Regions from separate parts of the Homo sapiens genome. Here region 2 is linked to region 1. Evidence: fine-mapped expression QTL. A gene starts in region 1. The other region holds a variant in brackets. All regions are shown on one strand. Distances are from middle to middle.

The links. PIP is the estimated chance that this variant, and not a neighbour inherited with it, causes the effect.
Region 2: its variant is fine-mapped to the expression of SYPL1 in tibial nerve (GTEx, PIP 0.96).

Annotation. Positions count from the first base shown.
Region 1 is chr7:106,109,739-106,115,111 of GRCh38, forward strand. It overlaps SYPL1 (synaptophysin like 1), which reads right to left and starts at 2,574. Exons shown (of 5, transcript NM_182715.4): 1 at 2,402-2,574. The coding sequence starts at 2,470. RefSeq lists an enhancer at 1,804-2,636 and silencers at 2,092-2,341, 2,352-2,841, 2,922-2,981.
Region 2 is chr7:106,055,457-106,060,829 of GRCh38, forward strand. No RefSeq gene overlaps it. Among named protein-coding and RNA genes, the nearest start is that of SYPL1, 54 kb to the right of the region's middle. RefSeq lists enhancers at 1,329-1,378, 1,889-1,938, 2,784-3,335, 3,019-3,178, 3,209-3,308 and a silencer at 3,649-3,768. The variant G/A (reference allele first, on the strand shown) is at 3,409.

The sequences.
Region 1 (5,373 bases):
AGTCATCTTAGGGTCCTCCCTCTTTGTTACCTTCCATATATATTCTAATTTGTAACCCCCTTTTGTAAACCCCTTCAGTCCTACTGAAACTAATTTTAGGCCCTCATAATTCCTCAATCAACAGATTTCCCTTCCTCCAATTCTAGCCTTTCCAATTCATCCTTTTAGAAATTTTCATTTTGTCGGCAGTTAGAGGGATGGATTGGAAAGGTCAGAATTGGAGGGAGAAATCGATTGATTGAGGAATTATGAGTGCCTAAAATTAGTCGTATCATTGACTTGTTTAAAGCCTTTAAGTTCCCATCCCCTATGGCAGGGATTCTGGGCTTGAATGGAATAAACACTCCAATATTCCATACCCTGCACATATGCATTTTCCTAAGGAAAGGGCCCAGATTCCCAAAGATTAACCCCAGAAGCAGCCGACCTCTGAAATCTTTTCAGAACAATCTCAAACCGTACCCTCCAACCTAGCATATATTCCAACTAACCCCCAATTACTTTTAAGTTCTCATACAGGGTTATGCTGCTTCAACATTTCCTTCCACTGAACATAAGATTCCTTCTGCCTAGAAAGCCACTCCCCAAGTGAACCAGTACCCATCCTTCAAGTGTTCTCTCAGCTATGAAGTCCTCCCTAGTTCCTCCAAGCAAATGCTCTCTCCCTCATTTCTTCTACTATTCTTTGCATACACCTTTATCACAGTTTATTACATGGCATTTTTGTATTTTGTATGTCCTTCATCCTTAATAGATCATGAGAAAAAGACCATGTTTTATTCATGTGGTATGCTAGTGTTTAGTACAGATCTGGTATAAAATAGTCAAATATTTACCACACCATTAACAATGTGTAGTCTTTTCATAAAAGGCTCTCCTGTGTAATAACAAGCTGTTCAAACTGAAAGTATTTCTGTAAGATGCTTAAAAAGGGATATTTTTCAAAATACATCAAAACACGAATGAACTTATCACTAGTGCTTGAAATATTAAGGAAAAAGCTAAGTCTACAGTTGTTTAAAAACTTGACAAAAAATATAAGCACAGATATAAACAACTGCCTCTTCATTTAAGTGGAAATCTAAATTATTAGTTATACATTTAATTATAATCCTCAATGAGACTAAATCTAGATATAAGACTTTCTTAACGTTCATATTTGATTAGCCTCGTTAATGAGATTTTCCTCTTGCAATTTTTAAATGCTTTAATCATGGTTTTCTTTATACTTAAATCTGGACTTAGGTTTAAAAAAATCAAGTATATTTATTTATGCGTCTTTCAAGTAGTCATTTGTGTGAAGTCAGCACTACTTCAGTTTTCAGAAAACACACAAAATGTTCAGTGAATGGTGAAATTGCCTAACCCCTTGCGCGGTTACAATGGTCCAAGTAGGAAATCACATTAGGTACCCATCAGAGAAACTGAGTTTCTACGCTGCTTTTAAAAACATCCTCGGTAGGTTATTTAGAACAGGAAATTGAAAGTTCTTATTCTTCTTCACCACTCTATCACTAAGGAAAAGGGCGAAAAAGCTATGGATGTAAATGCTGCTGTCTATAAACACAACTTGCCTGCAGAAATATGTAGTGGGCCGCGAAGTTTGAAGGAAGCCCGCAGTGCCTGGTATATTCACCAACTCCTCCAAGTAACTGATCATTGCCAAGGTCGAATTAATAAGCGTTCTTTGATGTTAATGATTGTGAGTGTTCTCAGGAAAGGACTAAAAGCTGACTTTCTAAACAGGATGTTGTTTGGAAATACCCCAAACAAACTCGATGTCCATTCCTAACGTGTTATTAAGTGAACCGATCTGACTCGATGCGTTTTGTTAAAAGGACTTTCTTTAGTTTCCCTGGCCCACAGTTTATTTTTTTACTATTTTTAACTCGGAGCCCATCTTAAAAACAAATTAAGAACGGAATGCTCGCCAAATCACGTCTACAAGACAAAATCGGCTTCCCAGGGAGCTAGACCTCGAGTGGGCACCGGCAGGGACGTAACCGCTGAGCCTCTCCGCAGAGCGCGACGCCGGCCGCCGGGTTTCGGTTAGACCGCAGCAGGAAGTTTTCCCTTCCTCTGCGGGAGGCAGTGGAGCCAAGGGGAAATTTGAACTCCCACTCCACGGGGACACCCAGAGGGGAGCTCCGGTGTGGGAGGGTGGCTCCCCTGGGAGCCAGGCGGCCGAGGAGCTCGTGATTCGACGCCCGCCGCGGCGTCTCCGCCCCGCGCGGCCCAGGCCGCGGCCTCCCTGCCCTCCCTGCCGTCCACTCCCAGTCCCGGGGCGGCGGCCTCAAAGCCCGCGCGGCAGGGCTGCGTCCCGGCTCGCAGGTCCCCGTCTCCCCGCCTAGGGCGCCGCGCCGAGCGGCAGGCGGGCCTGGCCGGCGCGGGCTGCACTCACCCACTCGAGGACCTTGATGAAGCCGAGTGGCTCCTTGAGCGGGTTGAGGTTGATCTGGAAGCCGGACATCCTCTGAGGAAAGGAGGGAGAGAGAGTCAGGACGACGGGGCGGAGGAGGGGACCGACGAGACCAGAGCAGCCCGGTGGCGAGGAAGGGCAGGCGGGGCTGGCGCGCTGGCCGGGCTCGGAGGCGGGCCCGGGCGGCCGTGGGGCGGGGCGGGGCGGAGCGGCGGCGGTTGAGCTGCTGGCTGAGACTCTGGGGCGGAAACGGAGTGGGGCGGCTGGGGAGGCGAGGGGCGGGCCGGGGCGGAGACCGGGAGGCTTCTCCTCAGGCCGCACCTGGCCGAGTCGACTGATCCGCTGGCGAACCAAGTAGATGTTGGGCGCCATACTGCGTGCGCCGCGCCCCCTTCCCTGCGGTTCAGCCCCTGGCACTCGGTCTTCCCCTGCGCACGCGTGTACGCGTGCGCTCGTTGGGCCCGCGCCGCGCTTCCGGACCCGCGCGACTGCGAAGAGCCCTGACCCGGGGGCGCCCACGCCCGCTCCTGCGCAGCTTGGGGGCGCTGGCCTCAGAGACACCCTCACTTGACCCCGAGCTCACCACAGCTGAGCTCACTACACCGAAGCTGACCTCTCCTTCCCTTAACAGATCTCAACTTTTTTATGAATTTATAATGTATTGGCACAGATGAAGTTGTGTTTCAAGGCATGTGTTAGGGGCCTTTGATTAAAATTGCAAAACAACAGACTTCTGGCTACCGTGCTGTGGGGTGCCTCGAAAGTGTGAATCACCAAATATTCGTATGGAAATTAGGTTTATTTTCAAAGTTACCATCGCAGCCATGGTTGAAAAATGAAGTAAGTTTATACCTAAAAGGAAAGGCGTGGCCGGACAGGCCCTCGGTGACCTACACTTTCACCTCTTCTACGCTGTCGGTCGACAGTCCTCTTTTTAAGGCATCGTTGGTATCTTTCTTCAAGAAGCTGACCCCTTTAAGATTCGGCTTAGGTGATACTTTCCTCTTGGCACGCAGTTACGGGAGCCCCAAGGTAGTGTGATCTCCTTCCTGGCTTCTTCAGTACCTGGAAAGTTCCTGGACAGCTGGAATGTGGTCATATTCGTGTATATGAAAAACCAGCTTCCAAGGACTTACCTGAATTTCAAGCACGAATATGATTTGCAGGCTACTTGCCACTGAGGTTATTCCGTCAGGGTTGACAACTGTTATTGAACGTCCTTGTAGTAAGCGAACCCTTTCTCTTTCGAGACCTATCTCCTTGTTTGCTGTCCAGAGAGTGCAAAAAATACATTTCATTTTCTATGCAGACAGAGACAATCTTTATGTTTATCTTGGCTCCCGTTCCTCAGTCCCCAGCACAGTCAGTGCTCAATGAGCACCTAATGGCATATCTCATTTTGAAATAACATTAAGAACTGGGCGCGGTGGCTCACGCCTGTAATCCCAGCACTTTGGGAGGCCGAGGCCGGCGGATCGTGAGGTCAGGAGTTCAAGACCAACCTGGCTAACATGGTGAAACCCCGTCTCTTATAAAGATACCAAAAAAATTAGCCTGACGTGGTAGCACGCGCCTGTCATCCCAGCTACTCAGGAGGCTGAGGCAGGAGAATCGCTTGAACCGGGAGGTGGGGGGGTTGCAGCGGGTTCCTAATGGATGGTTGCAGATTTCTCCCACTAAGCAACAAAGCATCATAGATACCCCTTAGGGCTAGGTGAGTGGAAGGTGACCATACACTGCTACCTGGTGCGTCTGAGACCACGATGAGCGGTGCTCCAGGTCTTCCAGCTTCCTCTCTCTCCTTTTTTTTCTACTTTGTTTCTGTATCTTCCTCTCAGTACTTCTCTTTTTGTTCTCTTTAGCCCGTTTTTCTAAGCTTTTACTCTCATTCTGTTGCGGTCTTCTGGGTAGGCACCTGGGGACGGAGTAGTGAATAGTAAGACTATTTAGCTTGAGCTTCATATTCACGAATATTCAAATTAGACTCTTAATGTTATTATTATTATTTTTTTTTTTTGAGACAGAGTCTTGCCCCGTCACCCAGGCTGGAGTGCAATGGCGTGATCTCAGCTCACTGCAACCTCTGCACCCCCGGGTTCAAGCGATTCTCCTGCCTCAGCCTCCCGAGTAGCTGGGATTACAGGCACGTACCACCACGTCCGGCTAATTTTTTTGTATCTTTATTAGAGACGGGGTTTCACCATGTTGGCCAGGTTGGTCTTGAACTCCTGACCTCATGATCCGCCACCTCGGCCTCCCAAAGTGCTGGGATTACAGGCGTGAGCCACCGCGCCCAGCTCTTAATGTTATTTCAAAATGAGATATGCCTTGACAGATTAGAGATATGTTCACATGCAGCTTTATTAATTAAAGATCTAAAACATACCATGACTTAGTAAACCAATATTGGCATCTCTTCTTCTTTTTGTTTATTGAAGGCCTTAGAAATTGGAATTGGCCAGGCCCTTTCTCAACTTCCGCGCTAAACTTTCTGTTGCTTCTGTCTGCCTCTCCTCACTTTCTCTCCTGCTTCTTGTTCAAGCCCACCAGTGGAAGGCATGGTGGTTACATTTCCTCAGGAAACCTTCAGTGCTAGAGTAACTCCTTGAACTTTAAGAAGGTTCCTTCCTTGGCCCTGTGGCACTCGATTTTAAAGATGGAGACCACCGAGGGTGAGCAGAACCACATCTGGTCACTTATCAGAACTCATTCGCAGAATCTCTCTTGAGCAGAAGGAAACAGAAGTGAGCCGCCACTGCTCACCTTCAGTCACAGCCTAGCACTGCTTCTGCCAGTCAGCTGAGCTCAGGGGCCTACCTTCCTGAGAAGGAACTGGCCGTGACTGGCAGAGCCAGTGAGATCTGATTGGGCAACAAGATAATTGTGATTTTTTTTTAAATCCTCCTCAAACAAAAGTGTTTAAACAATAGCATCTCATTGAAGGCACAACTGTT
Region 2 (5,373 bases), 54 kb before region 1:
GAAACTAATCCCCCATCAGTTTTCCAGGTGGGTCGTTCCAATGTCTGTTTTGCGGTGAGAAGAGGCTCAGGTGAGAGGCTGGGAAGACTTCAGGGTTGGCTCCGGGTTAATGGTTGCCACACTCCACACATGTGCCGCCTCCTCCTTGTTCCTCTCTTTTCTCTTGGCCTCCGCTTCTCTTAGGATTCTTTTCCTCCTTCTCTTTGCCTGAAGTCTTCTAATGGCACCCAGAAGCCTTCTTCCTCCCTCTTGTGGCAGTCGGAGTAGAAGGGCTTTGGGGTTTTGCAATACCCCCAGAGTTCTTGGGAACTTTTGGGTCCATGTGGGTATTGGTTGGGAGGCTCAGGGCCCAAGCAGGAGGCTCTGTCCCACCCCATGGCTGCAGCTCACGCCTATGGAGCAGGGACAGCTTCAGTCCTGCTCTGTGAAGGCAAGAAAGCCAGGAGCCTCAGAAAAGCTATGGATGTGAGGGAAGCAGGGGGCCCCAGCTTCGTCATTCCGCATCGTTTTCTCCTTTAAGGGGACAAAAGTGAGAAGACTTCCCAGCGATTCATTCGCTCCTCCATCCTGCAAGGAAGCAGAGCCACAGTTGCCCCACCAGGAAGAAGCAACTTGAGGCCGGGTGCGGTGGCACACACCTGTAGGTCAGGAGTTTGAGACCAGCCTGGCCAACATAATGAAACCCTGTCTCTACTAAAAATACAAAAATTAGCTGGGCGTGGTGGCGGCCACCTGTAATCCCAACTACTCGGGAGGCTGAGGCAGGAGAATCACTTGAACCCAGGAGACGGAGGTTGCAGTGAGCTGAGATTGCACCACTGTACTCCAGCCTGGGTGACAGAGCAAGACTCCATCTCAAAAAAATAATAAATAAAAATAAAGAAGCAATTTGAGGGATACTTTTGTTGCTGTTAGCCACTGAGTTTTTTTTTTTTTTTTTTTTTTTAACAGTCTCATACTGTTGCCCAGGCTGGAGTGCAGTGGCATGATCTCAGCAACCTCCACCTCCCAGGTTCAAGTGATTCTCCTTGCCTCAGCCTCCCAAGTAGTTGGGATTACAGCTGCCTGCCACCACACCCGGCTAATTTATTTAGTATTTTTAGTAGAGATAGGGTTTCACTATGTTGGCCAGGCTGGTCTTGAACTTCTGACCTCAGGTGATCCATCCATCCCAGCCTCCCAAAGTGCTGGGATTACAGGCATGAGACACCACGCCCGGCCTAGCCACTGAGATTTTTGAGGCTATTTGTTATTGCAGCAAAACTTAATGAGAGCTTACTACTACACCCTCTCATCTTCCTCAATCTCTCCTCAAAGCTGCCTCAAAATTTAAAAAATTCTTTTATATACTCATGTGATACTTTCTCGCTTTAGGCCAAGTGAAAATAAAGGCATCTTCATAAACATTTGCTTTTTTTCTTGGTTCATGATATGACTGTACAAACTGCACTTGTGTATACGGCTTTAAACCCAGACTTCAGGCAGGGGGAACAGTCAGTGCAAAGGCCCCCAAGGCAGGGACGTCAGGAGTCCATGTGGCTTGGTCAGAGTAAGAAGGTGGGAGAGTGGTAGGGAGTGAGGCTCATGGAGTGAGAGGTGGGCAGTGTGGACCTGAGCATGGGCCCCAGAGAAGGTGCAGTTTCAGGACAGAAGCACAAGGTGGCACCGTGACACTCCCCTCAGTCACTGTGGACCGCATGTGCGGTGGTAGAGAAGACACATCTTCTTATCCTCCAAAATGGCTCTGCCAGGGAATGAAAGTCCAGCCGACTCCAGCAAATTAGAAACTGTACTCTTAGGACTGGAAAAGCTTTCGAGACCTCTCAATCAGGGAGGTTTCCATGTGGGGTCCATGATGCCTATGCATGGACTCCAGGACCCAGGGGATCCCCTGAATTGCAGTGTGCTTTTCAGGAGAAACCTCCAACATTTTCACTCCAAGGGGTCTATGACCCAAAAAAGGTGAAGAACCTCTGACTACCACTGGTGCTCCCACCAAGGCCAGACTTGACAAGAACTTCCTCAGCAACAGGCAGCCCCGGCCAATTCCACATTATTACCAGGTGCCTGGAGACCTGTGAGTCCTTTGCTATCTCAGTGGAGGCACCCAGTAATGCTTGGAACCGCTGGGCCTGAGGACACTCGGGCTCTCCTTCCAGAAACTAGAGCTTTTGTGAGGGGCCAGCAAATTTGCATACGTGCACCCGTGCACACACGCACACACCCCTCTCTCCACTGTCTTTAGATTGAAGAAATCACATCTTCTGCACATGAACGTCCTGTTGGTTCTCAAAGGTGCCTGGATGTTTCTGTGATAAGTAAAATATGATTGCACAATGTGGTTACTGAATTTGCAGTCACTTTGATCATTATATAGTTTCTCACCCACTGGATGTTTTATAGAAGTCTAATATAGAATTGATCTAATTGAAGTTTAATATATATTCGACTCTATGTGTCCAATATAATGAATGGGGCAGGGAGTCTGTCAGATATTTTGAGCTAAATGAGAAACTTCATAATCAAAATGGTGGGAGCCACAGTCTGGTGAAAGGGAGGGGTCGTGAGTGATGTCTGATGGCCAACAGGTGAGCTGGGACGGCGCAGGGGGCGCGGTGGGGGCAGGACAGGAAGCTGCGTGGGCAGCAGGTGGAGGGTGTGAGCAGAAGTGAGACTGGAGCCTGTGGGGTTGCTCAAGTGGAACTGCAGAAGGAGATCAAGAATGAGGGAAGATGCAAATTTTTAATTCAGCATCTTCTAAAAAAAAGTCCCAGAAATGACTGTATTTGCTATTGGTGTTTTAAAATATCCATTAAATACCACATTTGCCAGCATCACTTCTCTTATCCCGGCTGCTCTAGCAGCCTGAATTCTGCCTTTTTCTTCCCTGAGAGCTGGGCTCAGGGAACCCGCGTATCGACCTCAGGGGGTCAGGCCTGCAGGTGGGTGGCTCCCCTGGGACTCTTTAAAACCAAACCCCGAGCAGAAAGGAGAGGCTGAGGTTTGGGGCTCCTTTAAAGGCCTCCTCTCAGCTTGTCTCCAGTTCACTGCCTAAGAATGTCCTCCAGACACAGGCTCTGAGGCCAGAGCTATTGAATATTTATCAAGGCCTCCTGGCAGACGTGGGAGACTGAGAACAGGAAAATCAGGCCCAGGCGGGCATCTGTGGAGCCTGCCTGGGTGCTAGCCAGATGCTGCAAGATTCAAGTTGCCCGTTGACTCTGCAGAGCCTGCCCCGCCCTGTCCTCCCTCCTCGGGGAGGCGTGCATGGGCCTGGCTGCTGTCAGGGTGTTTGCTTCTTGTCACCATCCTCCATACTGACTTCCATTGCAAGCCCTGCCCCACTGTGGCTCCATTGTCTGCAGTGGCCTGGGCTGACCAGCTCAGCCTGGAGCCCTGCCCTGGGAC[G/A]ATGCGGGCTAACACAGTGACACAAAGCCCTGCTTTGTGGCCCTGACAGGAGGATTTATCATTAGCTGTGAGATGGTCCCTGGCAGATCCTGGCATGTGGTGAGCAGACAGATCTGTGCTGATCACAGTATTTTGAGTACCCCCAGTTGAATACAGCATCTGGGGCCCTCAAATCTGCCACATGGATCTTATGGCTTCAGGCTCACTGGCACCTTTTGTGTTGGCCGAAGTACGGGTAGGGGGTAGATTAGGAGCACTAGCTTGTACCCAGTGACGTCTGGGGGCTGGTTTACAGGAAAGGCACCCTAAGGTTGTGCAGGCCCTGACATGTGGTCCTCCTGGCATCTGGGGACAGCATGTCAGGTTTGGGGTCTGCCCATCCTTGCCTTGGGCACAGGTCCCCAAACAACAGCAGCATCCCTGTGGGTGGGATATCTGACCAGCAGAAAATGGAAGTGAATATCTCTTTGATCTTGGAGTGAGGAAGAATTTCTTAAAAATAACACACCAAAAAATCACAAATCATAAAAAAGAAAGATTCATGATTTCAACCACGTTAAATTTAAGAACCTTGGTTCATCACAGGTATTTTAAAGAAACTCAGAAGATAAGCCACAAGCTGGGAAAAGATATGTGTAGCACTTAAGTGACAAAGGATTAGCTTCAAGAATATATCGAGTCCTGAATGCCTGGTGGGGTGGAGGGAGTGGGAAATAGACAGATAGTTCAGAAGAAAAATGGGAAAAAAATATGAATAGGCATTTGACAGAAGAGGCAACACATAGGGCCAGTCAACATAGGGATGTGCTAACCTAGTCAGTGTCCAGGAAATTGCAAAACAGGCAGTGAGATCCATTTCCTCCAGTCTGTTTCCTCCAGTCTCTCTCCGGGGCCTGGAGATGCTCCTTGGATGGTTCTCAGTGGCCCTGGTCCTCTCCCTGGGAAGCCTGGCCTGTCAGGCTCTGCAGAGCCCTCTGTTTTGTCCTTCCCCCAATATCCTCCCACTCAGAGCCTGAGTCTGCCCCTGCCCCTTCCCTTCCTGTCCTCACCAATGGCGAGTGTGGCAGATCCTCCAGTTTCTAGAAACACCTCCTCACTCCATCTTCATCCTTTCCTTTGATGTTTCCCCAGGTCTTATCCGGCCAGGTGGGCTTTAGGGAACATTTTTCTTCCCCCTTTGAAGCCAGGGTCTCGCTCTGTTGCCCAGGCTGGAGTGCAGTGGCACAATCTCGGCTCACTGCAGCCTCCGCCTCCCAGGTTCCAGCAATTCTTCTGCCTCAGCCTCCCAAGTAGCTGGGATTACAGGCATGCGCCACCACGCCTGGGTAATTTTTGTATTTTTAGTAGAGACGGGGTTTTGCCATGTTGGCCAGGCTGGTCTTGGACTCCTGACCTCAGGTGATCCACCCACCTCGGCCTCCCAAAGTGCTAGGATTACAGGCATGAGCCACTGCACCCGGCCTAGAGAGCATATTTTCAATCAGAAAAGTAGTTCGCTGCACCTCACAAGCCCAACACTGAGTTCCAGGAGGACCTCAGGACAGGCTATTGATGGTACGGTAAACATGGCTGACAACTAGCACGTTCTAGACCAAGTTCAGGTAGAAAGGGACTCCCTCAGCTGGCCACAAAGCTACCCTCTCCCTAGTGTGCAGCCTTATCAGGCTATTGTCCAAGGCAAAAGCTGTGTGTAACAAGCAGCCCACGCAGCCTGCAGCCAGGTCTGCCAAGGCACCTTTCCTAAGGGGCTGCCCATGTGGCCCGCTCACGCAGGATCTTGCTGGCACTCTTCCTTGGGAGCTTACCTTGTTTGGAAACCTTTCCTGGTTAGCCTTTAAGAGCCTCAACAGGCAGCTGAAAGCATGTCCTGAAATGCCTGAACTCATACTTGGAATGAGAACTAGCTACAGCTTAGTATGCCATGAACGTTTGCATCACTTGTTGTCCAATAAATCTGCGGTCCCC